Regions from separate parts of the Homo sapiens genome. Here all the other regions are linked to region 2. Evidence: fine-mapped expression QTL. A gene starts in region 2. Each other region holds a variant in brackets. All regions are shown on one strand. Distances are from middle to middle.

Region 1 (10,265 bases), 52 kb before region 2:
TTTCCTGAAAACTCACAGGATTTGGCAGCTCTGAGTCCACTTTTCCAAATGGCCACAACTGGCTGTGGCTAGTACTGCCTTCCAGCTTGACCTGTTCCAGTCAATTACTGCACCTGCCTGGCCTCTGCAGGCCTGCCCCTAACAATGCGGAAGCAGGCCCTTGTGGGGAATCTCTTGTGGGCCACCTGGAGGAAAGACAGAGAGCACGGGACAGTCCTTGCCATGGGCTTCCCCTGGCTATGTCATTGGCTGAAATATGTTCCAAGCCATCCCTGTGTGACAGGAAGTAACACAACAATAATGAATAACAACTACAATGTATTGAGTACTTACCAGATGCTGGGCACCAAGCTAAGCAATTTACTTTCAAGACCTCCTTTAATCCTTTCAACAATCCTGTTTAGGCACTATTGTCTCCATTGAACTGATTAAGAAACTGAGGCTCAGAGAACTTAGGTAACTTGCCCAGTTGACACCACTAGCAAGTGATGGAGCTTGAGTGCCAACGAAACTCTAAAGCCCAGGTACTTAGCCTTCCAGGCTCACTGCCTCAGGAGCAATGGCGATCTGCTCATGGGCATATTAACCTAACAAAGAGTGGGGAGTAGAGAGCTGTGGGCCACAGCAGCTTGCTCTTCCCACTTGGAGATAGCACATTGGAGTTGTTAAGAGCACAGTTTTGGTATTAGATAGACCTGAGCTCAGAGCCCAACTCCTAGTAATACCATTTACTAGCTGTGCTACCTAAAGCAAGTGACTAAACCTCTCTAAGGCTCAGCTTCCTCTTCTGAGAAATGGAAGGGATAATAACACCTGTTGCTTTTGGAGGGCAATTGGAGCGTTGAGATATTGCATTTAAATCCTATATTTGTACAGTTCTTTGGTGGCAGCCATCAGAAACAGTTTGGCTACAAGGTCAGCAAAAAGGGATATTGTCAGAGAGCAAGATGTGGAATACACAGAGAATCCCAAGAAAAACTGAAAGAACCAGGGATGCTCCAGGAATCAAGATAACAGGAATAAGGAATAATCTTGTTGGGAGCTACCACCAGAACAGTAAGGTTTCAACCTCTTTTTCCTCCTATCTTTGATGCAGTTTCCTGGGAGATGGGCCTCTTTTGGGTCACATTCCCACCTGGGTTATGTCAGTTTCTCTGGAAGCAGAGCCTGAGACAAGGATTCTCATGCAATATTCTGTTGAGAGTGCTGTCAGGGGAAGAGGAGGTAGCAGAGCAGTACTGGGCAAAGGAAGAAGAAGCTGGTCAAGATGTGGTTTTAGGGTGAGTCTAGTCTCTCAGCCTGATGCTGGGGGAGTATGAATTGCACCGGTGAATTTGTCCCACCTAGAGGCAAGGGGGCTGGGTTTACTCCACATTAGTTAGTCATTGACCCCAGGCCACTCCCAGGGGAAGCGGTGTAACCTTTCAGGTAGCCCCAGGTAAATCACCTCAGGCAATTCTCCAAGGAAGGGGGCAGCTGTGAGCCATTAGCATCCAACACTTGCAGCATAAAGGGTGTCTGGGCAGGCCACCAAAGCCATCTGCTACACTACCCATTACTGAGTGTCCCAGCCAGCCACACAAAATGAAGGAGAGGTAATCATCTAAAAAGAAATCAGGGTGCTTTGCAGAAGAGGAAGAGATGGATACAGAGAGCTGGAAAAAAAAGCAAATATTCACTACACATGATTAGCCCTGAGCCTGCCCCGTGTAGAGCAAACATTAAATTAATGGTGGCTATTATTATAAGTGTAACAACATATTAAAATTGAAATGTCCAGCTGAGAGGTCAACATAGAAGAGATGCCACATTCCAGAGTAAAGAACAAGACCATGGTGCAAAATTTACAAAGCTGACAAAGATTGGCTGCTCTCAACCCCTTATGGTATTGTGTGTGGGTTTTAAAGGGTTGGAAGTAGTTGGGGATGAGGGAGAAATATTTGTTTCTGTTTTGTTTTGTTTTGTTTTGTTTTGAGACAGAGTCTCACTCTATCACCCAGGCTGTAGTGCAGTGGCGCCACCTCGGCTCACCACAACCTCTGCCTCCCAGGTTCAAGCGATTCTTCTGCGACAGTCTCCTGAGTGGCTGGGATTACAGGCACATGCCACCATGCCTGGCTAATTTTTTTTTTCTTTTGTATTTTTAGTAGAGACAGGGTTTCACCATGTTGGTCAGGCTGGTCTTGAACTCCTGACCTCAGGTGATCTGCCCACCTCGGCCTCCCAGTGCTGGGATTACAAGCATGAGCCACTGTGCCCAGCCAAGGGAGAAATATCTGAAGTAGCAGTTGATGTGTTGTGAGTTACACCTTCTCTCAAAAATGAGCAATGAAGAATATGTCCCCCTTCATCTCAAGAAAGGAGAACAGTGCTTTAAAGTGACCACTCAGAGCTCTGCTATGGTTCAAATGTACGTGTCCATCCAAAATTCGTATGTTGGAACTGAAGCCCCAAGGTGATGGTCTTATGAGGTGGGGCCTTTAGGAGGTGATTAGTATGAGATCAGTGCCTTATAAAAAGTCTGGAGGGAACTAGCTAGTAGCTTTTTGCCCATCTGCCTTCCACCAAGTGAGGACACAGTATTTGTCCCCTCTGGAGGAAGCAGCAACAAGATGCCACCTTAGAAGCAGAGACCAGGCCACCACCAGACATTGAACCTGCTGTTACCTTGATCTTGGACTTCCAGCCTCCAGAACCGTGACAAAGAAATGTCTGTTCTTTATAAATTACCCAGTCTCAGGTATTTTGTTATAGCAGCAGGAATGGCCTAAGACAAGCTCGAGGTGTGTCTCCTGTGTTTTGGTGGACACAACAGGTTGCTATTTGACCCTGCCTGTTCCTTTTAGAGGGCAGCCTTTGTGCTGGTCAACTGCTGTGACAATGGCGCAGAGGTGAAGTGGCTGCACTGGTGCTCACCCCCAGAGCTTACTAGAGCCAGATCTTTGGATTTTTTGTGAACTCATGTGGGACAGCTAGAGAGGGTGCCAGCAGGGGGTTATCTTAGGGTTTGTCCACAAGGGACTCCTGGAGGGGCAAGCAGACAGCCAAAAGGAGCTGGAGGTCTTGCTAGACAGATGCCTAGGGGCTAAGGAAGGAGAAAACCACTAGCCAGCATAGAAATATATTCACCTTGCAAAAGGACTGCAGGCGAGCAGCTTCTCTAACCCGTCTCTCACTCCAGAGCTCCGAAGCTAGAGAATCAGAGATCAAGGCTGTCAGATTCTTCAGGGAAGGATGCATGCAGGGGAAGAAGCCTAGTGTGCCCCTCCCTGACAGGCTTCATAACTTACCTGCAAAAAGTGCAAGCTGGGGAGTCAAGGGCTAGCAGGGAGAAGGCTCAACTTTAAGTCAAGTTGGAAGGTTTGATAATTTGGGCAGAGCGATGAACTGAGACTATAGTTAGTGACTGGCAGTGGTTGTAGGACTTTTTATTACCTAAAGTGACCAGGAAATTGGTGACTCTGTCCACATTTGCATACATGGGCAGGATAACTAGACTCATAGGAAGTGCAAAAAGAGAAAAAAGGAGGCAAAATTCAAGTTTCTTTCACACTGTAGCCTATATGTTCTTTGTGTTCAAATAATGGCTATTTGAGGAAAGACATTTGGAACCACATTTTAAATATATGACCTTGGCAGATTGGGGCCTAAGTGAGTGCTAGGTCTGAAGGTCTCTTAGGAAAACTAGGCCCGGCCATTTGGGATTTGGTGAGCCTGAGCCCAAGGTCACACTGAGTTATGAGACTTAGACTCCAGCTTGGGCCCAACAGTCCTAAATCTGCATAATGCCACCTCCAAAGGGTTTGTGCATTTGACACATGTCACACTCCCCAGGTGAGAGAAGGGGAGGTGTCTGCATAGGAAAATGATGTATTCAAGGTCTCCAGGTTGGATCGAAGGGGTTTTTTGGCTCCCTGGGCTCCTGAACCTGGATTCTCTCATTCTGGCTGTGACATGATGGCTCCCAGTGTGGTTGCTCTGATGTAATAGGCTGTGAGGGAGGCCTGTGGGTTTCTCACAGCTGGGGCAGGGTGCTGGGGATGACACACTAGGCTTCCCAAGGATAGTCACAAAGTGTGTATAAATGAAGTGAGAATCTCATTCTGGAACCAGTGAACTATCCAGAGCTGGAAGTTTCCTTAGAGTTGTCTAGTCTCTTCACCACATTTTACAGACAGGGAAACTGTGGTGCACGTAGGGCCTGGCACACACAGGGACTCAGTCTAGGCTCAGGCATGAGTAGATTTTAGCCCTGGCCCTTCCTCTGGAAGTGCATTTAGGAGATGCCTTTGGGGCAGAGGGAAATGTTCCCATCAAGGAACCAAGGAAGGACAGTTTAGGAGGGCACAGGGCAGGGTTAAGGATAGGCATTGTTCTCTTTGGCTTTCACAGTAGGGTGTGTGCAGGGCAGATAAGGCCCTCAGGAAGGTGTCTGAGGAGCTGTGATGAAGAAGGTTGGCTCCCATGCTGAGGAGTCCCACGTTACTCTGCAGGCAAAGGAAAGTCCTCAGAAGGGGCAGGGTGACAGAGAGATGTAATAATAACAGCAAGTGTTTGATGAGTGTTTATACTATGCTAGGCACTGTTTTAAGCCCTTTGTTTTATTTTTTTTTATTTTTAGTTTTAGAGAGATGGTCTTGCTTTGTCACCAGGCTGGGATTGCAGTGTTCTGATCATGGCTCACTGCAACCTTGACCTCCTGAGCTCAAGCAATCCTCGCACCTCAGCCTCCCTAGTAGCTGGGACTATAGACGTGCACCACTATGTCTGGCTAATTTTTAAATTTTTTGTAGACTCAGGGTCTTGCTATGTTGCCCAGGCTGGTCTCAAAACTCCTGATCTTGAGCTATCCTTCCACCTTGGCCTCCCAAAGTGCTGGGATTACAGGCGTGAGCCACTGTGCCCGGCCCTATAAACACTTTAATGTGTATTATTTCAATTAATCTTCACTCAAGCCCGTGAAGTGGGTTCTGATCTAAAACACCCATTTAACAGATGACTGAGGCAGAGAGAGAGGTTAAATCATTTGCCTAAAGTTGCCCGTTGGTTGGAGTCAGGATTCCAGTCCCCAAAGTCTGCCTCAAGAGCCCACCACACTAAAGCTCTGCCCCACCACCTGTGAATGTTGTAGGAAGAGCACCCTGGTGGTCAAAGGTGCACCATCACAGATGGAGATCTGGGGCAGGAAGAATGGCTAGGAGCCTGTGGAGACTCCTCCGATAACCAAGGCAGAACTCTGAGGGCCACAGAGTTTGCCAGGATTTTCTGGATC[G/A]GAAAAAATGACACAATCAAAGAATCCGCTCATTTAGCGCCTCATGTTTATAGGTGAGGACATCGACGCTCAGAAAAGCAAGACGAATTGTGCCCAGGGACAAGCTGCTTGTCCAGGCTTGAATCCTGATGACAGGACTCCAGGGATGGGAATTGATTTTAAAATATTAATATGTTAGGCTGGGGGTGGTGGTTCACTCCTGTAATTCTAGCACTTTGGGAAGCCAAGGTGGGTGGATCACTTGAGCTCGGGAGTTTGAGACCAGCTAGGGCAACATGATGAAACCTTACCTCTACTAAAAATACAAAAAAATTAGTTAGGTATGGTGGTGCATGCCTGTAGCCCCAGCTATTCAGGAGGCTGAGGTGGGAGGATCACCTGAGCCTGGAAGGTGGAGGTTGCAGTGAGCTGAGATCGCACCACCGCACTCCAGCCTGGGTGACAGAGTGAAACCCAGTATCAAAAATATATATATATATATATGTTAACAATACTTTCTGGGGACAATGTGATTTTTTTTTTTTTAAAAAAAAAAGCCTTTAAGCCAGTGCAGTGTTGTGTATCTACAATGCTAGCTACTTGTGGGGGCTGAGGCAGGAGGATTGCTTGAGCCCAAGAGTTCAAGTCTGGCCTGGGCAACATAACAAGACCCTCTCTCTTTGAAAAAAAAAATAAAAAAGTGTTTAAAATGAACATATCTTTTGGTACTATTAGGAATTTGCCCTAAAGAATATATATGCAAAGACATGTAATATGATGTTATTAATAATAATTTAATAAAAATTCCCAGCAATAAGGGGATTAGTCAAGGGAATTATGATGTATCTACTTGAAAAATACTATACAAACTTTAGAAAAGGAGATTATGTTATAGGTTAGGAGGTCTTAACCTGTGATACAGCAATGGGTTTCAGGAGACAGAACCTCCTAAAATTGTGAAAGGTGGATTTGTACGGAAGTGGATCTATAGCTGACTTAAGATTTTCAAAGGGATATGTGACCAAAATAGGCTAAAAACTACTATTAGAGAAGAATATTGAAAAAACCTTATATTTAAAAACGTACATGAAAGAGCATCAACCATTACCAATTCATGGTCAATCTTGTTTATCTCTACTCCCACCCAATTCCTCCTCCTGTATTATTTTGAAGGGAATCCCAGATATCATTTTACTTAGAAACAGCTCAGGATATATCTCTAAAGAGGCTCTTTTTTTTTTTTGTCATTGAGAACTATTTTAATGCGGCTATGAAAAGGGAAAAAAGTGTCCAGCTCTTAATTTCTTAGATATTGAAGAGGACGTTGTCATTTTGTTTATCAAACATAAGGAAAATTGTTCACCATTTTGAAGCTCACCCTAGACTATGAAAATTATATTCACTGCAGAGCAATTACTTCTGTCATTACCTGAAGTTATCAGTATGTATCTTCCTTGTCATAGGATGCATCTCTCAAAAAGCCTCCACTCCTTTTCCTCACATCTGTAATCATCATGAACCTTTTAGTTCACTTCTAGATCCATATTTTGTGTTTTCTAAAGCTTCTGACATTATCTTACTTTCTGACCCTCTTATCCATATTTTTAAAAACAGGAACATTGTTGAGATGCACCCTTTTTGGTTAATAGATACATTCCTAAAGAGCTTTTAATTGCTTACGCTTATCTTTTAGGAATAACCATCACTTTAACTTTTCCTTAGATAATATATTTTGAATTGTTAGAATAATTTTGTTGCATTTCTCTGAGATCTAGTCTGTTTCTCCTCATTATTTAAAAATGCTAAAACTTATATCTCACGTTTTCTCTAACACTGACTTAATACCTAACAGGGTAGAAGCAACATTCATTCTTCTGATTATATATATGAATTCAAGTATTAGCTTTCTTGTAATAACAACCTTTTATTACTATTCTAGAGACTGCAATACCGACAGTGTAGGCCAACCACCAGCTTGATATCAAAGTATAACATTATAAAGTTAGTAGGGTAAAACATCTGTAGGGAAAACCCAGTGAAGAACCAGAGTATTTGGTTCTCATGTCTGTTTAATGAAGGGACTAGATTTTGTAATCTATCCTTTTAGAAATTATATAACTGACTAATATGGTTTAATTAACATTAGTAACATCTCATGACCACTGACTGCTGAAAGTTCTGAAAAGGGTTTTGTTTTGTTAAAATGCACATTTGAGGGAGATTCACTCCCCTGACTTATGAGTAAAACAAAGACTTCACTGGGTGACCTAAATGAGACTTAGTGGAGAAAAGTTGCCATGTTTGGACAGAGATAAATGATATTCATGTTGTATGGTTTTAATATACTAGTACATTCTAGAATGTAAAAGGATTAATTTAAACTCTACAATTTACATCAATATTTTGAATATGTAAATTTTTTATGGGAGACTGTATTACATTTTGCTGAAATTAGAACAAAGTAAAGAGAAAGGGCAAGAAAGCAACATTGCTGATCTCTCTAGTATGAAAGATTTGGAGGGAGTGTGGCAATATATATATAAATGAAAAAATGTAATTGTGTTCATCATATTTAAAAATAGAATATGTGACTGGGCACGGTGGCTCACGCCTGTAATCCCAGCTCTTTGGGAGGCCAAGGCGGGTGGATCGCCTGAGGTCAGGAGTTCGAGACCAGCCTGACCAACATGGAGACACCCCCTCTTTACTAAAAATACAAAATTAGCCAGGCGTGTTGGCACATGCCTGTAATCCCAGCTATGCGGGAGGTTGAGGCAGGAGAATAGCTTGAACCTGGGAGGCGGAGGCTGTGATAAGCTGAGATAGTGCCACTGCACTCCAGCCTGGGCTCCGTCTCAAAAAAAAGAATATACTAAAGAACTGTGATATAAAAGTACTCTGTTAATGTAAAAAATAAAGCAAGTGTAATTCTTTTAGAATATAAAATTTGAGCATTACCTGCTGAGCAGTTCCCAAATTAAGTACAAGGAATGTATATTCATTTTCTGCCATATACTGTATGTAACAGGGAATACCTTGCTAAAATGATAAATACTTAGGATATAGTGGTAATGGCTTTCACATTTTTATAACATAACTCACTACACGCCATTCTTGTAGCTGCCCACTCTTAGAAACTTTGTTGCCTAATATTGAGGAAGCGGCTTTAATTTCTTCCATTTGGCAGTGTATGTCTATAGTGGAGCATGAAATTGGCTATGCATTGCTATTGCCTGCTGAAGTTTCTCTTCCTTGGCTCTTCTACAGTGGCAAATTGTTCTCTTTTCCATGAAGCTACTGAGAAAATCATTTATTTCCATTTTTCCCTCCACAAAGTCTTCCACAATATTATCAGGTTCTTCCCCAGCTTCATGTGCAGCTACTTTCAATGTTGCCTGTAGGGCACTTGCACTACAGCTCTCACTAAGTTCACACTGCCTTTGCATCTTCTTTTTGAAAGCAGACTTCATTTGTTTAAGTAATTCATACTTATCTAAAACGGTTTGCCTTTTGGCTCCCAAGCTGGGCTCCAAAAGGATATTTTTTTCTTGCTAGTTCCTCAATACTTTTTACTAAGTCATCTTTGTCAGTAATAATTTGTTTTAGTTGAGACAAAGTCAGAAACTGTTCTAGTAATACCTCCTCTTGTTCATTCATATCTGTGAGTCGTGACACGCTTAGTTCTGAGAGTTCTGGAAATGCATCAGAGACATCTGGCATCTTGTAACCAAAACCATTTTGGCTTGTCAATATTGAAGCATCTGTTGTGGAAATGGGTAATGGCAGATTTGAAAGGACACCAAATGAAGGAGCGACGGGCTTGGCTGTGGTATGACTTGTTGTTGAAGAAGAAACAGTATTAGCAACAGATAAAGAAGTGATAACTCCTCTTTGTTTCTTCTGGGGGATATGGAGGAAGAAATGGAAAACATTGAGAAGCATAAAGCGGCATCCCACTTGGGTTACTGTATAGGTAAGGAAATGCTGTTGCAGTAGGAGCTAAAACTGGAGGATTCTTCCAAAACTCATCCAACAGACTCTGAATAATTTTTCCAAGATCTGGGTGCATTGTAAAATTGTTTGCTAATGGAGAAGTAACATACACTCCTTGTTTATCCATTAAGTGATGTCGTATTGGTGGAAAAACACTGATCACTGGTTTTTCCTGAGGAAATTGTGGAGGAAGCAATATATGTTAATTGTCAGGTTGTTTATGGTGAATGGCAATCTGTATTCCACATCTTTCTGTATTTTAGCTATACTGGAGTGTGAGTTCCGGAGGGACTCGATCAGGCGTTGCTTCTGCTGCTGGAGGCTGGTAAGGCCACCGGGAACCCGGCTGCGGAGGAGGAGGCGCTCTTTGTCAGGTCCTCGGGCGGAGGCTCTGGAAGGCTCTGGCCTGCTTCTCCCAGCGGCTCGGCCCAGCGGTTCTCCTGCGACAGAGGACCGGGCTGGGACGTCCGTGGCCCAAGCGCTGGGGACCGCGTCTTCTCTAAGCCAGCCCTGCCTGTGCTTCCCGGGTTCTGGCGGACATGTTATGAATGGCGGGCAGCTGGAGAGGGGAACTTGCTGCCCAGAACAGGCAGTCCCACCTTCACCGCCCAGACGCCCAAGCCGGCCAGTTAGGCAGCCTGATCGCCCAGCGCTCCACCACCTGTGACGCCGTCTCTAAAAGGACTCTTTTAAAAAAGCATAGGTACAATGTCATTATCACACCTTTAGAAAACCTAACAATAATCAATAATTATCAAATAGCCACGTAATATGAAGTAAATAATATTCATTGACACCCCCACCCCTGAAAAAAAAAAGCCGGCCACCCATTGCTAAGTGAGAAAAGGAAAACAGAATAGACTCTGACCCCATTTTGGCAACATACACATCCTAATGGTAACAGTTATTTGGGGTTAGAAAGATTATGGATGGTTTCTTCTTTCTCAGGTTCTCGCATTACTTTTTTTTTTTTTTTTTTTTTAATTTTTTTGAGATAGAATCTCACTCTGTTACCCAGGCT
Region 2 (10,265 bases):
TGCAGAACACAAAGAGAATGCTAACATCACACTTGGCAGCGTATCATACACCAAACTTCCAGTGAATGGTGAAGACAGTAAATGGTACAGATTCAGCAAAGGAAGAGATCCCTGCAACAGAGATGCTCAGGGTGAAGGGCCCTGACTAAAAGGGAGGACTTTAGGCAGACAGGAAGCATTCCAGATGGGTAGGAGTGCCAAGACTTTAGAGTTTCCAATGGAGGATGACAGAAAGAGTGAGGAGGCCCAGGGTACAGTGTCAGTTGGGTGATGATGGCTGCCCATGTAGGAGCATAATGAAAAAGTGAGGCATCAGGGGGGTGGGCATGAGAACAGCTTAGACTTTCCTTCCGACAAGACAGAGTCCCTCAAGGAAGCAGGAAGTGATGTGACATTTTTAGAAGACCTGTAGGAGTCATAAACTTATAGTCGACTGGAATGTACTGTCCTGGGGAGGAGGAAAGCAGGACACAAGGGACTGTTGCAACGGTATTTGGGACACTCTATTTTTACAATTACAATAGCTACTATTGTAGGATAATAACTCTTTGAAAAACTTTGTTTCTATGTGTCAATTTATAATTCTTGCATTATCTCACATCTGATCCACAAAGAAAAGTGGAAAAAGATGTGGAAGTTCTTACAAGGTAGAACCACATACAAGAAGGTGGATACTACAGATTTTCTAATACAGGCTGGAGGCACACTGGTAAGTGAAGGTGGCAGCAACAGCTAAGACATGAAGAATCCTCCAAGGCTGGCTGGAGGAACCACTGAAAAACTTTACAGAAACTGAATGCCCAGCAAATGACTTGGGGTTGTTGATACTGAAACAGCTGTTGCACAAATGTTCTGCAGAGACTTCTGAATTTGAGTTTATTCCTTAAATCCTTAAAGATAAAAGTAAGCTGGCAGGAAATCCGCATCAATTAATTCAGACCTTTTCATGGAGAAAATAATGAAAACTGTTTATTTATTTATTCAGATGAATGATCACTTTCATGTGGCTGGATTAGTGAGTCATAAGTACTTTTAAGTTTATACTGTGATGGTGTCTTGCAGACAGGAGGTACTCGAAAAATGTTGATGTACCAATATAGGAAGTCTCCTATATCTAAAAGTGGCTTAAGGCTAATGAAAGCCACCACTTAACATGGTTACAAACTGGGATAGCTTTGTCAGATTCAACTCTGTCAAAGGACTTTCAAACACAGCACATGCCACTGTCCCAAAGAATCCCACCTAGCTGATGTATATACTACTGGACATGCTTTTCTCCAGGAAGAAAGCACAACAAAGCACACTCTGCATCCCTGAGAGGAAGCTAGCCCTCCATGTTAGCTAGACTGGCGAGTCCACTCAGATCAACTGCTCCTCAAGTTCACAGTAACAAACTTCATAGGAGAACAGGGAGAATAGGTGGCTTCCTAAAGCTTTGGCTGGGAGATTTCAGATCAGGACAATAGAATAACGGAATCCTAGCTGTAAGAGAACTTAGCAATCACTAGTGCAATCCCATTGACCCCAATCCGTTTTCTAAATGGGTAAAATGAAGCCATCCAGAGTGAGGAAATGACCTGGCCAAGGTCACCCAGGCCTTCTGCCCCCCCAGTACATGTCTTTTCCTACTCCAGCATTTTCCTTTATACTATTCTCAACTTCCACTTTTCTCCAGGAAAAAAAAAGCAGAAATATGTCAACTGGAGGTATATTAGTATTTTAACAGATCACAGAACACTGCCAAAGTCTATATAAAATGAGTTAAACAGCCTGAATTGAATTTCTGGTGTTGTTATTTAAAAAGGTTCTCTGCTAGACTCTCTTACAAGATAAATAATCATTTTCTCCTTAACCATTTTCAAGTACATACTGGTTTTCAGAAATTTCAGAGCTCAGTGGCCTTTGGGAGTGGGGTTGGGGCAGGAGGGTGGTAGCAAAGGCTCTAGTTTTTTTTTTTCCTTCACTTTCTGCAATAGCTAAAAATTCTTGTAACATACCAGTTACCTGGAATTGAATTCCTGCCCAAGCCTGTGAGAAAGAAATAGAATCCCTTTCAGAAATAATGACTCCACAACACCACCTTAAAACAAATTTTGAGTGATTCCACCTGGAAACCTTACTACCTCAGAAGTATTACATTTTGGGAACACTAATGCTAGGCTCAGGCTGCCCTTCTTCTAGACAGTGTGTGTGAAATGATCAGCATAGCTCAACACAGGTTTTCCAGTACAGTCAATGGGTAAATAAAAGGAGTCCCAGTTGCAGCAGCAAAATCATTCAGATGGGAAGGCATCCAGTGATCTAAAAGGACTGGAAGATTCTTTTAAGGACTGGAAATTATTATTATAAGCTGCTCAAGTAAAGCAGCTTCTAACAACCTACACGGAAGGTAGGCAGTGTTTCTAAGTGGATGAATTCATTGCCATAAGCATTTCACCTCAACGTGTGACCTAAGGAGGGATCACCTTGGTGTCTAGACCCTTGTTTGTTCTCAGATATTTCCATTCATGCATTCATTGATAGAGATTTGTAGTAAGAAAGCCATTAACTCTCTCCCAACCACTTAAAAATAGCACCTGTCCATGCAAGAGCTGCAACTGTATTATAATGATTAACTTAAAAATGGGGGTAGGAGGGAAGAGTCTGAAGAAAGGACAGGGGCTGGGCGCAGTGGCTCACGCCTGTAATCCCAGAACTTTGGGAGGCCTAGGCGGGTGGATCATTTGAGGTCAGGAGTTCAAGACCAGCCTGTCCAACATGGCGAAACCCTATCTCCATTAAAAATACAAAAATCAGCCAGGCATGGCGGCAAACGCCTGTAATCCCAGCTATTCAGGAGGCTGAGGCAGGAGAATCGCTTCAACCCGGGAGGCGGAGGTTGCAGTGAGTCGAGATCTTGCCACTGCACTCCAGCCTGGGTGACAGAGTGAGACTCCGTCTCAAAAAAAAAAAAAAAAAAAAAAAAGAAAAAGAAAAAAAAAAGAAAAGAAAAAGGACAGGGGAGATTTTTTATTTATTAGAGACTTAATGAAGACTTATGTATAGGGCTTGGAAGTAAATTAGATAATATCTTTAAGAAATTAACCAGCCTCTTAGGTGCTGTGTGTACCTGACACCCTCACTTCCTATCTCTGGGCCTGTTTCAACCCTAAAATCAGAGGGGAAACGTGCACTCCCTTTCAGTTTAACAAGCAGTCTCTGATTTCCTCCAACTGTGGAGAAATTCTGATTCTAGAAGAGAATGGATGTTAACCACCTAAGCTCTTAGCTAGTCTACCTGAATATTAAATATCCCCTTAACTCATTTCCAATTCCTAATCATGAAGCAATCACTTAAGGCTTGTAGCAACAGATGTCAAACTAAAAAGTTCTTAATTGGTTGACAATAGGCACAGCTTCAGAATTGTTAACTAGAAGTGGTGAAGTCACACGGGAGGAGTTTCCTATAATAAGCCACAAAGAGCAGGGCAATCCGATTTAAATTTAAATATCCACCCCCTTATTTCAAAAGAAACTACCACTAAGAAAATTGATTTCTTTTCTTCCCCCCTCCAGTCACATCGACTGCAAGAGCCATTTCTCAAGACCTGGCCTTGGCCTTATTTCTGCCACATCCTAGAAAAACCCATTCCCACAGCTGCCTGCGAAGCAGCTAGCTCGGTGACCCTCTGCTGATACCGAGGATGCGGGAGCCAGGGAAGTAACTGCCACCTTTCTCTGTCTGAAGGAATAACAGGGTTCCTAGAAGGAGAGAGAAGTTGGAAAAGAGCCGGGTATCTTCATCACTCCCCGCTCCGATTCTTGCTCCTTCAAGGGCCAACAAAACTAACCCACCTCTCCCTGCTCTAAAGTCTAAACCAATAAAACAAGTTGGAAACTGCTGTCCAATCTTTCCAGGCAGCAGGAGTCCTGAAGCCCCCGCCCCCATCCTCCCGGATCTGGGTAGAATCACAGTCAGAGCATGTCAGCGCTGGAGCGGCCTTTGAAATGCGGAGTCCAACTCAGTTCTGCAGAGCCGGGGCGGCGAGGCCCACGGCGGGGAGTGCCCGGGGAGTCCCGACTGGAGCCCAGGGCAGCGGACGGAGAGCTGGGGGCGCCGGGGCCCAGACGCGAGCGGGGGCGGACTCACGCTCTTGTCGATGTCCAGCTTGAGTTTCTTCTGCGAGATGCTCTTCTGGACCCTCTTGCTGAAGGAGGCGTTGCCCGCGGGCCGGACGCAGCGCTCGCCGTCCTCGATGAGGCAGCAGCTCTGGCCGTAGCCCGGGGCGGCGGCAGCTGGGGCGGCGGGGGGCCCTTCGCGGCTGTCCTCCTCCGTGCTGAAGCCGTTCATCTCCCCGCCCCGGGCCGGTCCCTCTGGGGGAGGGTCCCCGGTAGGCCACTCCGCGGCCGCGCTTGCCGCGGGGCAGGTCGCTGAGACCCCCGCAGCCGAGGGTCCCAGAGTCCGTCTCCAGCCCGGGCGCTGCCCTGCCCCGCGTCCGAGAGGCCCGGCTCCCTCGGCCCCCGGCCCTCCGCCTCCGGAAGCCCCCTTCCTCCCGGCTCGAGGCCCCGGGGTCGGCTCCCGCGGCTCGCAGGGCCCCGCCGGGGGTCACCCGGAGGAGCCTTCTGCCGGGGGCCCAGAACCGTAACCCTGCAGCGGGGGTGTCCGGGAGGGCGTCCCAGGAAACAGCCGCTCCCCAAGGACTCCGGGCCTGGGTTGCCAGGGGGTTTCGAAGGCCCCTGCCGGCTCCCGCCTTCTTTCGGCAGCGGGGCAAACTCGCTGCCGGGCAGCTCCCCCGGGGTGGCGCGGCCTCCTCGCGCGGGGCCCGGCCTCGAACCCGCGGCACCCGGGCCCCGCGGCTCGTCCGGCCCACTCCACCCCTGCAGCCACTCGGCTGCGCCCCGAGTCCCGCGGCAGCCCCTGGGCCGCCCGGCCGCCGCCCGCCGAACGCTCCGCACCACAACAGTTCGCTCCCCCCGCCCTTCGCGGGACAGCGGAAGTCCCGCCTTCACGCGACCATTGGTCTCATTTGCTCTCTGGGCGGGGCTGCCGCCGCCGCTGGCGCGTCCCATTGGGCGTCGCCGCCGCCAGTCTCCGGCGCCAGGCTACTTCCTGGACTCTGCTGGGATGGGTTCAAAGTAGAGAAAGTGGAAGAGGAAAGAGTTACCCCAGCGAGAACCGGGAACCGGGCTGCAGACTCTCCGGCCCGGGGGAGGGATGGTGAGCAGGGGCCTGGCTGGACCGAGGGCCAGACTCCAGGAACAGAGGAACACATTCGGGGACAGACAGTAGAGACGCGGACGGGGACGCTGAGGGACAGACTTGGAGGAGGGGCATATGAGGGGACCTAAAGAGGATAGAGGTGCTATCAGGAGAGGGGCGGACTAATAAAATGAAAGGGCCAGGGCCAGAGGACTCGCGGATCCGTGGGAGGAAGGGTGGGTGAAATAGGACGGAAAGCCAGTCATGGCGGGAAAGACAGAGGGACAACCCCATACAGATACGTGGAAAGACATGCGGAGGAGGTGATGGGGGGATCTTGCAAGGCAGTCGCAATATTGGGGGTAGCCGATACCTTCCAGAGTGTGGAGAGTGGGACTGGCTTGGACGGCGCGGAAAGAAAAGGAGAGGGGGAAAGGAGACCCCGAGGGGTTTGGGCGACCCCTCCACTGGGAAGAATGGGAAGTCCGAATGAGGTCTGGAGGGTGGACTAGGTGAGCCGCGGGCAAGAGAAAGGGCTTCAGGGGAGATGAAGTGAAGGCTGGGAGTGGGGCCCAGGGGCCAATCTCGGAATCTAGATGGGGAAGGGCTGCGGTGTCTTGGGCTCTCCCTGGAGCTCCAAGCTGTAGTTCTATTGCTTTGAGTCCCCGGGTCTACCGGCGAAGCGACTGCGCCCTGCCAAGACCCTGCGCTTGGTTTCGGCGCCCAGGGCACCACCTCCCCTCCAGGAGGGGCCGTAGGATATGCTCTGGTCCAGCACTTCAGTCATGCCACTCTCCAACTGCGCAGCATGGGGACTGATGAGGTCCGAAAGGCGATGGGACCAGCCCAGGGTCGTGTAATTATGTAGGGCTGGGCAGCGTTTTATGGGCAGGGAAGAGGGGAGGCTGTGTTAGGTGATAGGTAAGCAAGTGTTAGTACTAGAGGGCATAGAAGGAGCTTCGGGTTTGTGTCCTGTTGTAAAAGGGAAAGCTACCAGTTTCCATGTTTAGAAGCAGGTGGCTGGTGATCTTAAGTTTTGCTCAGTGGCCATAAATGCATTTGTAGCATCTGAACTGGTAATTTCACACGTGGGACAGCCATCGTCGGAAATAGGCCTATCAGAGATAATATGAAGTACAGTGATGTTCATTATGGAATTATTTATAATAGGAAAAATAAAATAGAACCTCAGAGTTCCAAAAGGGAAGTGGTTAAGTAAACTACCTAAAATCTTCAGAAAGAGATTGTGCAGTTAGCATTTGAGGTAGTTTCAACATCAATGTAAACATTTTCTATAGAGAATAATTCACCATTAATTCTTAAATAAAGAGCTGATGAGGAGTTGGAGAAATGCTTTTTTTATGATAAGTAAAAAAATTCAGGATATGAAATTGCATGGAGGATACGATGTCTGTACATCTATGTTTAAAGAAAAAAGAAAACTATTGGTATAAAAAATGCACCAAAGTACTAACAGTGATTATTTCTGGGTAGCAGGAATATGGCTGATATTTTTCTCCTTTTGTTTAACCTTTGCATTTTCTTTAATAAGCATTATTTTTGTTTTTACAGTAGAAAAAATAGAATAAAAATTAATGGAAAAAAGGCACAGATTAATAGGAGTCTTCCCTCAGAGTTCATATATTCTGTTCAAAAGTAAATTGTTGTTGAACTCATTATGTATACCAAGTATAGGGTTGGCTATAGGAGGAGGATGAAACATAACCCTTGCCCTAAAAGAATATCTCCTATCTGGGGTGTTCAGACATATATGTAGAAAACACTTGGGTATCTGTACCAGGCACTGTGTGATGTTGGGTCCAAAGTCAGTTGGTATGGATGAAACCTCCATGTTCCCCATATTTTTCTAAACAGCATTTGTATTCAATGCTAGGCTATTGCGGTACACAACTTCTTCTGCACCAACTTGCCCTGGTCTAAGGGGATCTAGGACCTTTTCTTAGGTGCTCTGTCTCAGTCCTTGAGGTAGTGGCTACTTATATCTGCTATTCTTGTATTATTTAGCATTCTTTTTTCTTTTTACTAGGCAGTTCCTTATAACTGTAGGGGACTACAGTCCCCTATTATAATTAATACATGTTTATATTATTATTTTCCTGTTCAAATTACTGTAAGGTTACTCTTTCCTGATTACACCCAGCCTGATACGCCCAGCCAGCCTCTGTGTGTGTGTGTGTGTGTGGTGGTGGTGGTGGGGGAGTTCATGCTTGTAACTGTTCTTTTTTTTTCTTTTTTCTTTTTTCTTTTGAGACAGAGTTTCACTCTGGTTGCCCAGGCTGGAGTGCAATGGCGCGATCTCGGCTCACCGCAACCTCTGCCTCCCGGATTCAAGCGATTCTCCTGCTTCAGCCTCCCGAGTAGCTGGGATTACAGGCATGTACCACTGCTCCCGGCTAATCTTGTATTTTTAGTAGAGATGGGGTTTCTCCATGTTGGTCCGGCTGGTCTCGGACTCCCAACCTCAGGTGATCTGCCCGCCTCGGCCTCCCAAAGTGCTGGGATTACGGGTGTGAGCCACCGCTCCCAGCCATTCTTTATGTATAATTTTGTAGTCTTTATTCAAGGCATACTTTATCATAATCTTTCCCCATATTGCTATGTAGTTTTCACAGTTGCCATTTTTTATGTAGTACAGTGCAGTTTCTGTAGTACAGTACACTGTGGTGCTAAAGACAGTTGGCTTTGCTGTCAGAACTGGGTTCAGATCTGGACTCCACCCATGACTTGTTATAACATGTTAGCAATTATTTCACTTCTTGAGTCTGATGAAATAGGTGGTGACAAATTCTTAACACAGTGCCTAGAACATCATAAGTGGTTAATAAATGTCAGCTATCATGATTCCTACCGTAGTTACATTTGCCCCCCCAGAAGTTGGATATCTTTTTTGTGTGGTTCTGTATAATTATTTTTGAACATAAAACTTTTTATTATTTAGGATTATTATTTTTTCTGAGTGCCAGAGATGGAATTGTGGTCAAAGACTACAAAGTTTTCCAAGGTCTAAGGGCCAGGCTCACTGACCCTTTTTTTCTTTCCTGTCTTTTCTGCCCCTGCCCTCCCCACCTTCATTCCTTCCATCCAGTCAGGCCCCAGTTGAGAAGTTATCCCCCAACACGCCTTAAAGAATCAGAGTTGGATACCTTGGCCAAGCAGTCACAGTCCTACAAAAGCTCTTTGCTCTCCTCTTTCTCTCCTCTTTTCCCTTTTTGGGGAATGTGGCATATGGCTCTGGGAGTGATTTCCAATGACTGCCCTTCTTTGGGAACAGGTGGACACTTAGGTGTCCAGTGACTGGGTTTCTAATCCTTGAGTGGCCCCTGATTGTCTAATAGTGAATACTTGCTGGGTTAAGCCTGTGGCTCAAACTGTACTGGTCAGTTTCTCTCCAGCAAATCTGCTGGTTGGAACTGACAGGTGGTTGGTGGGAGTGGTTAGAGCAGAGGCACTAATGGTGGGTCCTGCCTCCTGTGTTCCCCAGGGCCTGGTAGTTGAGCTTGCCCTTGGGTTCTGTAAGGTACTCATAGATATGTTGGCATGAACCAAAAGTATCTGAGACAGGTCTCAATTTAGAAGGTTTATATTGCCAAGGCTAAGGACGTGCACGTGACACAGCCTCAGGAGGTCCTGACTACATGTGCCCAAGGTGGTTGGGATACAGCTTGCTTTTATACATTTTAGGGAGACATGAGACATCAGTCAATATGTACAAGATGTACATTGGTTCCATCTGGAAAGGCAGGACAACTTGATGCTGGGGCTTCCAGGTCATAGATAGATAAGAGACAAATGGTTGCATTCTTTTGAGTCTTTGCTCAGCGTTTCACTGAATATACAATTTACATGTGGGGAAGGGGTGAGGTGGGTGGTAGAGGAATAGTCATTTATGCCTTTGTCTCAGTGGATCTGCATTTTTACATAAACAACAGGGCAGAAGAAGCAATCAGATATTCATTTGTCTCAGGTGAGCAGAGGGATGACTTTGAGTTCTGTCCTTTGTCCCACACCTATGAAGATAAGCTATCCATTTACATTGCCAGGGTGAAATTCAACAGAACTGTTTTAGGGTAAAGATCTTGATGCCCACAAGGAATTTCCTTGTGGGCAAATTGTGAGGGAGGTCTGTAGCTTTTTTATCTTTGTAGCTATCTAACTTAGGAATAAAATAAGAGGTAGGTTTGCCTGATGCAGTTTCCAGCTTGACTCTTCCCTTTGCCTTAGTGATTTTGGTGTCCCGAGATTCATTTTCCTTTCACATTGTTCTGAGACTGGAAGTTCTGCAAGGACAGGGAACTGTCTCTATGGCTCATCATAGTTTCCAGTGCCCAGGCACTTGATTAATATTTGTTGAATGGATGGATAGATGGATGATGGATGACTTGGCCTCTGGAATCAAGAGGCAGTACAGCATAATGGTTGGTATAAATCTAGATGTAGTCAGCTTATGCTGGAATCCTGGCTCTGCCACTGACTAGCCTGGGAACCTTGGGAAAATTACATGGCCTTAGTCTGCCATGGTTTCCTCATCTGTAAAATGGGGATGATAGTAACCTCTCGGGATTGTTGTGAAGACTGTCTGAGTTATTAGATATAAACCAACTATTAGATATAAAAGTGCCTTGCACATATTAGGTACTCAATAAATATTAGATACTATTATTGGCTTAATTAGTCATAATTAGGTTTAGCAAGTAACAGAAAACCCAAAAATAAGCTTACATTTTTCTCTCACCTTCAGGAATCCTAGAGGTGATCAGATTGTTTTCCTCAGCATCAGAGACCGAGGCTTCTCTTGTTGCTTTGCCATGTTTGGCTTCCATTCCCAAGGTCGCGTCACTAAGCAAGGTGGCTGCTGGGACTCCCATCTACTGAGGCATTCTAGCCAGGAGGAAGGGGGAAAGGCAGAGGAAGGGCTCACCCTTGCTCTTTAAGGATAGTTCCCAGAAGTTGTAGGTGAGCCTCCCACTTGTACCTCTTTGGCCAGAATTTCGCCATACCTAACGGGGGAGGGGAACATTGGGAAATGTAGCCCTTATTCCTGGTGGCTGTATGCTCAGGTGAAAAC
Region 3 (10,265 bases), 21 kb before region 2:
GTCCCCAAAGTAAGGTAGAGAAAAAAAGAAGGAAGGAGTTACGTGAAAGGATCTGGGATTCAAATTCCAGCATTCTCCTGGAACCCTCTTCCCCTGTCAGGGCTCTGAGTGGATCCCATCTAGAAAATGAGGAAAAGGGTAGGCTCCAAGGTGGTTTCCTGTTAGTAACATTCTGATTCCAGGAATCTACTTTCTCCTGGTGAGGAATTCAGCACGTTATTCTTTGCAGTAGTCTCTGGTGTTTGCCTGGCACATTTACCTTACCCGGGTACTTCCACTTTTATAAGTGCATTTTCCTCCCCATAATCTGGAAGACAGCCAAGGCAGGAATGATGCTCCCCATGGACAGATGTGGGAAAGGCAAACCCAAGAGAGTTGATGTGACCAGTTCAGGGTCACACAGCCAGTCAAAGGCTGAGCCCGGATTAGAAGGTGCGCCTCAAACCCAGGGTTCTTACGGAAAAGGCACTGGATACCTTCTGTCTATGCAACCATTGGTTAACCTTATAGTCTTGCTAAATCTTCACAAAAGAAACGAAACTAAGAAATCAGCCAATCTCATTTTTAAATGAAGAGTGACTGAAGAGAAAAAATATGCACGTTCTGAAGTGTCTGAAACCAGCCTCCTGATTTAAACCTGATTTGTTAGAAACAAAATTTTTTCAGCTGAGAGAGTTTTTACAGCTGAGCTCTCCCAAACTCATAAAAAACTAGGTTTATATGGGAAATCGTGAAAGACTCTTAACTATAATACACAGCATCTAATGTAAGCAGACGTAGACACTATATAAAGCTCCTACAAATGTTATTAAAACAAACAGAAATGCACATTTATCCCCACAAAATAGACAATGGAAAGCATCGGACTTTAGAGGAGTCCTGAAAGGCTTATGTTCACTGAAATGTGAACACACCCCATAACACTGAGACCTCAAAGGTCTTTACCCACCATCCAAGCATGTCCCTCATTTACAGAAGGAGAAACTGAGGCTCACAAAGGAGAGGGACTTGCCCAGCATCTCAGGGAAGTTGTGCCCTTCTCTTCCCTTTGTTTATTTAATACCTTCTACTTTTAGTGCAGGGAACAGAACAATACAAGGGCCAGGAGTCCCTGCACAAGTTACTGAACATTTCCCAATCTCAGTTTTCTTCACAAGTTACTGAACATTTCTCAACCTCAGTTTTCTTATCTACAAAATGAGAGCAATCATTCCCCCAACATCCTTGGGTCTGTGAGGATGGAAAGAGATAAGGCATGCAAAGCACTTAGCGCGTTGCCCATGGTAGAGCTATTTTTATTATTTTATTTAATCCTCATAACAGTCTTGTGAAGCATTGAGGGTTTCTTTTGGTTTGTTTGCTGGCTTTGGAGACTCAGGGCATACTTCCAACAGATGCAGAAGATTTCAGTGACTTTCTCAAGGACACACACCCAGTGAGCAAATTCCTGCTTCAAAGCCCTTATAGTCCACATCATTAAGGTAACACAGGGGGAAGGCAGCCTGTAGCCGTTGAATTTCTGAAACTGTTTCAGGCAGCACTGTACAGTACAACTATCATGCAAGCTATAAGTGCGAGTCACATAGGTGATTAAACATTTTCTAGTAGCCACAATAAAAATGAGAAGAGAAACAGGTGAAATTATTTTAATAATGTATTTTGTTTAACTTAATATATCCAAAATAGAATTTCAACATGAATCCATCTAAAAATTATTAGTAAGATATTTTACATTCTTTTTTTTTCATACTAAGCCTTCAAAACCAGGGGCTTTTTTTTTTTTTTTTTAAGTTGGAGTTTCATTCTTTTTGCCCAGGCTATAGTGCAGTGGTGCCGTCTCGGCTCACTGAAACCTCCGTCTCTCAGGTTCAAGCGATACTCCTGCCTCAGCCTCCCGAGTAGCTGGGATTACAGGTGCTGACCAATATACCTGGCTAACTTTTTGTATTTTTAGTAGAGATGCGGTTTCAGCTTGTCAGCTGGCTGGTCTCGAGCTCAAATGATCCTCCCACCTTAGCCTCCCAAAGTGCTGGGATTACAGGCGAGAGCCACCGTGCCTGGTCCAGGCACATAACTATTAAGTGGCAGGGCTGGGCTGCAGACCCAGATGCATTTGACTCGAAAACCTGCCCTTTCAGCCACTCAGTTCCGTGACTCCCAGAGACAGTAGGGGGACTATAGCTGGGCAGTAAGATGTGGAGTGCCTTTTGGAGTGTCCCACCTAGTTCCAGTTCCAAGTCTACTATGAGTCAGGTGACCTTGGTCCAGTCATCTCCTTGTGCCCCAGTTTTCTAATCTCTAAGATGGGCTAACAATATCTTTCCTCCCCGCAACAGAACTCCTGTCACGCTGAAGTGGGAAAAGATCTTTGAAAGTGTTTTGAAGGCTGGGTGCGGTGGCTCACGCCTGTAATCTCAAGACTTTGGGAAGCCAAGGTGGGTGGATCACCTGAGGTTAGGAGTTCGAGACAAGCCTGACCAGCATGGTGAAACCCCATCTCTACGAAAAATACAAAAATTAGCAGGGCGTGTTGGCACATGCCTGTAATCTCAGCTACTTGGGAGGCTGAGGCAGGAGAATTGCTTGAACCTGGGAGGTGGAGGTTGTAGTGAGTTGAGATAGCGCCACTGCACTCCAGCCTGGGCAACAGAGTGAGACTTTGTCTCAAAAAAAAAAAAAGTGTTTTGAAACAGAAAACATATTAGCACAAGAGGCCTGGCCAAGGTCAACAGGGAGGTCTAGACTGGCCCCCCAGGCCTGTACTCAAAACTAGGTGAGTTGGTGAAATGAGCTGCATGGCAATGGGCAGGTTTTTTAACCTTTCTGAGACCCACAGCTCACTTCTGTAAAAGGGAAGGCAGAGGCCAGGCGCAGTGGCTCACACCTGTAATCTCAGCACTTTGGGAGACCGAGGCAGGCAGATCACAAGGTCAGGAGTTGGAGAACAGCCTGGTTAACATGGGGAAACCCCGTCTCTACTAAAAAAATACAAAAATTAGCCGGGCATGGGGGCGTGCACCTGTAATCCCAGCTACTCGAGAAGCTGAGGCAGGAGAATTGCTTGAACCTGGGAGGTGGAGGTTGCAGTAAGCTGAAATCGCGTCACTGCACTCCAGCCTGGGTGACAGAGCAAGACTCTGTCTCAAAAAAAATTCTCAAAAAAAGAGAGAAAAAAAAAGGGAAGGCAGAGTAGCGTCTAGAAGCGTTTTGAGGACCTGGGAAGCTCTTAGCCTGGCCTGGAGCAGGCCGGTGGTAAACACGAGCTGTTCTTGCTGCTGTTGTGGTTGAGGTTGAGCTGCTGGGCCTGCTTGGGAAGCGACAGAGTGTGGCAGGAAAGGCGAAGACAGCGTGGCCCTTCAGGGCACCCTGAGACCAGGCTCTTGGCTGAGGGTAGAGCGCAGGCTGTCCGACGGTGAGGCGTGGGAGGTGTGGCTGGAAGTGCAAGAACAGCTAGTGTGGCAGGAAAAGCACTAGCCCCAGAAGGCAAGAGAAGGGGGTTCAGTTTGCTGTGTGACCTTCGGTACTTCCTTGCCCCAGCTGGACTCTGTAAAACAAGGAAGGGGGACCAGATCTAAGTCCCTTTCTGCATGGACTCTCTAGGATTTTTACAACGGTGTGAATCGAAGTATTCACCAAATACAGCATCTCTATGAGGGACAGAAAATACTCCTAGGGCCTTCCCCTGTGGCCTGAGGCTGCCACCGATTGAGGGGAGGGCGCCACCTGGTGGCCATACTCCCTCTTCTGCACTCTCAGCGCAGAGAAACCAGACAGGATCCCAGACTCCTCCTTGCAAGGTGAGCCCGGAGCCCCAGGACTCCCTTTCTTTAACTTCCTCTGGCAATTCAGGGGCGTAGAGAAGGGACTCAGCAAGTTCACAAAACCAGGAGTCCTGGGTGTGAGCCTAACTCCTGAGGGACGCTGGGGTTTTGTAACCCAAGATCTCTGAGGCCTTCTTACCTAAATATGCCTTAGGGACAGGGATCTGTGTTTCCTTACTATGTGAAATCTGAAATGCGCCACACTTTTTTTTCCTGTTCCTTTGAATAGAAGCCACTGAACAAACACAGTCCTCTCCTAGTAACTCAGAATATTTCTGCCACTACTACACAGGGCTAATGGAACACAGAGGGCAGTTTCCCCCTGCACTAAATAACCCAGGTTGCTGGGATCCTGAGTTCTTCCAACAGCTTTTACCACTCTTCCATCTTCCCAGCATGGTCAATATTCCACTTCATTCTGTGGTGTAGGTTGCATGGTGCACAGGGGAGTCAGA[C/T]TGACATAGGCTCAAATCCCAGTTCACTGTGAGACCCTGGGTGAGTCACCTGACTTCTCCAAGCTGTAGTTTTCCCATCTGAAAACTAGCAATGATAATAGCTTCTTTGCAGGTCTGTGTGAGGATTAGGACCATATACAAAGACCCTAGCACAGTGTCTACTTCCCAGTCGGTGCTTAACAAATAATAGCTATATTTCTGCAGCTGGGCCATCCTGACCATCTTTTCATATCCAGCTTTGGAAATATTCCTTGATAGAAATACGAATAGCATACATTTGAAAACTATATTAGCCACCAGAGATAGAACACCCTTCGCTGAAGATGAAGGAGCCCCCTTGGAACTGTTTAAATTGACTCAGCCAAGTTCAACTTCATCTAGTTTAGATAAACCCCAGTAGGCAGGCTGCGGTCTTGTGAGTAATTGATTCCCTCAGTCCTCATTCTTTGGGCTTCAGTAAGTTTCATTAGATACAGCTTCACCTTCTGGCAGTTGCTAGTGCGCGTGGCTGAGTCTGAGCTCTGCTGAACCTGTCCCAGCCCAGCTGACTGGATGGCTCCCTTTGAAGCCTGGTCCACTCCTGCATCCCCCATCACTTAGGCAGGAGAGGCTCTGGTTGGGCACAGGTAACCTCCCACTGCTCACTTAACAAAGGCCAATCTTGCTAGTGGCTATGAGCCCTCAGGAAGTCTCTTTTAACTGTTTTAGCTTAATTAAGCTCATTACATTTGCTAACCCTCATTGGCTTCTCTAAGACTTCAAGTGCCCGTTATGCACTGCTCCTTCCTCAGAAGTAGGGTTGACGCAGGGCTCCGAGCTTTCATCACAGATTCTATGATTTTAGTAGTTGAAGGACTACTTCCCACTCCTGTCTGAGTCTTAGCTCCTCTGAAATTCCTGGCTCCTGGAGGACAGAGTCCGTTTCCTTTGGCACCTGGCCCACAGCAGATACTCAAATACTTTTGTGACCATATTTCATCAATGGGTTGTTTTTTTTAATAATAGCAGGTTTGATGACTCCAAAGTTCAAGGTACTCATTCCAGCATGAGGCTTTCTGCTCCTCATTCACTGTCACATCAGCCTGGACTTCCCTTCACTCTCATCTCATCAAACCTGTTTCCTTCAAGGGCCTGCTTAGGTGCTTCCTCTTCCGGGAAGCTCCCCTACTTTTCAGAATGCCTTTTCCTTGGTATTTTCCCCTTACTCTGAATCACATAGATAGAGTGTGGCTACACATGAAGTTAGCAAGTAGATGCTTTGATTTACCTATAAATATGGTCATAGCAGGGTTGGGCATGGTAGCTCACGCCTATAATCCCAGCACTTTGGGAGGACAAGGCTGGCAGATTGCTTGAGCTCAGGAGTTCGAGACCAGCCTGGGTAACAACATGGCAAAACCCCATCTCTACAAAAAATACCAAAAAAATCAGCCAGGCATGGTGGTGGTGCACGCCTGTAGTCCCAGCTACTTGGGGGACTGAGGCAGGAGGATCACTTCAGCCTGGGAGGTTGAGGCCACAGTGAGCCAAGATCGCACCACTGTACTCCAATCACCTGGTGACAAAGTGAGACCCTGTCTCAAAGAAAAAAAATTATATATGGTCATAGTTACAGATATGTGTGTATAAATATACATGTATACTATGTATATAAACATATATCTATACAGATACATATTCCATATAGTTGTATATAGATACTCTGTATACATATGTTTACATATATAGTATTTCTAAGCTGATATGCATATCTTTCTATGTCATTAAACATTATTTTACAATTATGACATATGTATAATGCTTTCAAGACCAGTCTCCTAGTATTTGATATATAGGCTGTTTCCAGTTCTTCACTGTTCTAAACAATGCTCTTGCGAAATATTATCTTACTCAAGTATTAGGCAGCATGACATAGTGGACGCTGGAACCTGTGTGACTCATCCCCACCGTTTCCTGGTGACCTTGGGCAAGCCACTTCACCCTTCTAAACGATTTTTTCATCTATAAAATGGGGATAATAATAATACTCATCTCATAGGGTTATCAAGGCATGTACAGTGCTTACTTACCATTGGGACTGTCACATTGTAAGTGCTCAGTGAAAAAACAGTACCAATTCGGGAGGCGGAAGATGAAGATTTTCTCTGTCTTCTCCACTACCAGTGTGACTTTGTATATCACTGTTTCATAGCGTGACAAAAACTCACAGAAGTGATGGATGACAGCGCTGTACAACACTTTAAGTGCTGCTCAAATTTAAGGTTGTATTATTGTTGTTGCTTTTACTTCTCTTACTACTTTCTATATGTTTCGGGAATATGTAAAGTAAACTATGCAAGCAGGTAGTAAGTGCTTTGAAGGCACTTAAAAATGCTTTGCTATTTTACAGTTACGGTGAAAATGATTTGTGTTCATTATAACCAGTTTAGATGATACCAAGAAAGCACAAAGAAGAGAGTCAAATTTACTCCAAAATCACCAACCAGGACTAACCATGGTTGCCATATCAGTTGTGGTCTTTCTTAACTGGCTACCCTTGTGGTGCCCAGGGCAGAACAGGGCAGGCTTCAGCTGTTTAATAAATGTCTGTTGACCTCAACCAGATCGACTGTTAACAGCAGCATGCTCCAGTTCTCTCCCTCTCAGCCAACCTCTGACAGTTTCATTAACCCCATTAAATCATGCAGGTGCCTTTACACCTCCTGGGCTTGTTAATCTCTGTTCAGCTCTGGTAAGTTAAAACCTGGCTAGAAGGTTGGATGTACCTTGTTAACCTCCATTAAACCCTATTAAATTTCTTAACTAGAGTCCTAGTGACTTCTCAAAATCCCTCATTAAAGTTTAGTAAATCCAGTTGATTGGGACAAGGGTAACTGTTGTAGCTGCGCTGCTTCAGAGCTTGGCATTCTGAGTTCTTGGACGGTGGGGTTGACAGCAGTATCCCTAGAGCGAGGCAAGCCTTGGGGATCCATCCTGGGAGTGCCTTTACCTCTTTGGCTCTCATTGTTACTGGGGCAAGTTCCTCAGCTTTTCTGAGACTGTATTTACATCTCTATAAATTGGAGTTAATAATAGTTCCTACTTTGTATGATTGTAGTGAGATTAAATGAATTAATGCACATAAAACTATTAGCCATTGTCTGGCATGGACTCTGTACTTGATAGCTATTATTATTCCTGAATATAGAAGATCTTTGTAGACAAAAAACTGTTGAGTACACAGAAGACTCAGTCCCAGTACTAAATAAATATAGTGTCCTCCTCTGTGTCAGGTCTTGGGCTGGAATGGTGGGTTATTTTCATTCTGGTTTTCTGCAGACTGAAGATCATCCATTTGAATGACAACAGTGTCAGCCACTCTGTTTGCTCAGACTCTGCCACTTCTGAGCTGTTTGATGCTGAACGTAACATAGTTATAATACTTTCTTGACCAGGGCCTTAGGGGATTGGACTCAGTGGTTCCTAAACCTGGATGTGCAGATAAATTTCTGAAAGGATTTTTTTTTTTTTTGAGATAAGAATCTTGCTCTGTCGCCCAGGCTGGAAGTGCAGTGGTGCAATCTTGGCTTACTGCAACCTCCGCCTCCTGGGTTCAAGCGATTCTCCTGTCTTAGCCTCCCTAGTAGCTGGGATTACAGGCATGTGCCACCATGCCCAGCTAAATGTTTTTGTATGGTAGAGGCAAGGTTTCGCCATGTTGGCCAGGCTGGTCTCGAACTCTTGACCTCGAGTGATCCACCCACCTCGGCCTCCCAAATTGCTGCGATTATAGCATCCGAGAGGATTTTATAAAACGCGCCCAGCATCCGAGAGGATTTTATAAAAACATAGTTTCCTGGGCTTCACTTGAGAAAATTCTCATGAAAGAGAGCTCAAGGGGAACTTTTAACTAGTATTTGAACAGGTGATACTGAAGCTGTTCATCTCTGTGCTGGGATTGGGAAACCTCTGGACCAGATTGGTGCTTCTCAACTTTATTGAGCTTAAGTCTTACCTGGAGAAATTTTAAAAATCATTATTACTGGGACTTAGACCCTGAGCTTTTCATTCTGAGGATCTGGAATGGGGGCCCAGGAATTGGCATTGCAACAGAGTGCTTAGGGGATTCTGATGGGGGTAAGGGGTGGCAAGTGCCACACTTTTTTTCTTTTTGAGATGGAGTCTTGCTCTGTCGCCAGGCTGAGTGCAGTGGCACGATCTTGGTTCACTGCAACCTCCGCCGGGTTCAAGCGATTCTCCTGCCTCAGCCTCCTGAGTAGCTGGGACTACAGGTGCGTGTTACCATGCCCAGCTAATTTTTGTATTTTTAGTAGAGACAGGGTTTCACCATGTTGGCCAGGATGGTCTTGATCTCTTGACCTTGTGATCCGCCCGCCTCGGCCTCCCAAAGTGCTGGGATTAAAACACCGGACCTCAGATGATCTGATATTCGATGTCCTAAAGCTCTATTTTGAAAAGAAAATAAAAGGGTGTTGGGTTCCTCGTGAAACTTCTGTTCTAATAGCATATTAACATGTGGGTTCATCTCCATCTTTCCATTAAATTGATATCTGTGGATCATCAAGGGATGTTTACTGCAGCAGGGGGTCAGCCAGTTTTCAAAGTGTGGGGACAAAGCACCCCTTTGCCATTCAGTGTGTGAGGACAGCAGGCAGGCCCCCATGGTTAGACACAGTATAAAAGAATGGGAGAGGCCGAGTGCGGTGGCTCACGCCTGTAATCCTAGCACTTTGGGAGGCCAAGACGGGTGGATCACGAGGTCAGGAGATCGAGACCATCCTGGCTAACACGGTGAAACCCCGTCTCTACTAAAAATACAAAAAATTAGCAGTGGTGGGCGCCTGTAGTCCCAGCTACTCAGGAGGCTGAGGCAGGAGAATGGCATGAACCCGGGAGGCGGAGCTTGCAGTGAGCCGAGACTGCGCCACTGCACTCCAGCCTAGGTGAAAAAGTGAGACTCCGTCTCAAAAAAAAAAAAAAAAAAGAAAAAAAAGAATGGGAGGATGGCAGAGGAGGGGAAGCAACTACTTATGCTAAGAAACACAGTATGAAAACTGGAACTTCCTTTGCTTTCTAAAGCAACTCAGGGACCCTGTAAATGATGGTGTCCTTCAGCAACAATCCATCACTAATTCTGTGAGCTCCTTGGTGAGAGCCAGGACTTCCTGTCCTCTCAAATATCTCATGAAAAGCCACCCTCCACACTCCTTACAGGGGAGTGGAATGGGAGAGGAGAAGGATGTGGGAAGGAAAGGATCTGCACTTTTAAAATTTCTGTAAGGCTTAAAATTTTAGAGCTAAGATGTATTACTTCTATGTAACTAATATGATAAAGACAAATATTTATTGCACTTCTCCCTTTTCATTCTGCTGAGGACAAAGCTGTGGTAAAGTGGCACTAGAGACAGGCTTGAAGTGGGAGACCTGAACTTGAGGCTTGCCTTTCTCTTCTCTAGCACTGTGAGGACAGGCGAGAGGCGTCATCCGGTAGCCTCAGGGACCTCCACCAGGAACGTGCAGTCATACTGCCCTGGCTTCTCAAGCTGTAGTATCCCTAGGGAATTTGCTACTATGCAGATTCTGATTCAGTAGACGGCCAGCAGGAGGGGCTGGGAGATTCTGCATTTCCAACAAGTGCCCAGATGATGGACCAACTTTAAATAGCAAGACTCTACTGTAGGTGAAGAAACTCCAGGTCACACGCTGTTAAAAATGTCTTTGAGACATTTAAACATTGGGATGTTTACATGAAGATCTGAATTTCCAGCTTCTCCAGTCAAATTGCAAGACCCGGTCACACAGGGCTGGTGTGCCCATAAGGCTACAGTAGCGGGGAGCTGAGTAGTGGCTGCCCTTAGAAGGGACCTGAGTTTTCCAGTTTGCAGCTCACCCTCTGCAGATATTTCAATGTGCAATCAATCCTCCATACAGTTTATTTAGATGGAGAACTGAAGACCCAGAGAGAGAACTCTATTTGCCCAGTGCATCC

What was found. PIP is the estimated chance that this variant, and not a neighbour inherited with it, causes the effect.
Region 1: its variant is fine-mapped to the expression of SAP30L in whole blood (INTERVAL, PIP 0.95).
Region 3: its variant is fine-mapped to the expression of SAP30L in whole blood (INTERVAL, PIP above 0.99). The same link has a PIP of 0.9 or more in atrial appendage and esophagus muscle.

What each region holds. Positions count from the first base shown.
Region 1 is chr5:154,492,931-154,503,195 of GRCh38, reverse strand. It overlaps the pseudogene LOC100128833 and the pseudogene LOC100271907. Among named protein-coding and RNA genes, the nearest start is that of HAND1, 20 kb to the right of the region's middle. The variant G/A (reference allele first, on the strand shown) is at 5,273.
Region 2 is chr5:154,440,670-154,450,934 of GRCh38, reverse strand. It overlaps SAP30L (SAP30 like), which reads right to left and starts at 4,938. Exons shown (of 4, transcript NM_024632.6): 1 at 4,130-4,938. The coding sequence starts at 4,330. It overlaps SAP30L-AS1 (SAP30L and GALNT10 antisense RNA 1), which reads left to right and starts at 5,113. Exons shown (of 3, transcript NR_037897.1): 1 at 5,113-5,197; 2 at 7,455-7,573. RefSeq lists silencers at 4,295-4,404, 4,535-5,064 and enhancers at 4,641-5,141, 5,195-5,314.
Region 3 is chr5:154,461,320-154,471,584 of GRCh38, reverse strand. No RefSeq gene overlaps it. Among named protein-coding and RNA genes, the nearest start is that of HAND1, 12 kb to the left of the region's middle. The variant C/T (reference allele first, on the strand shown) is at 4,277.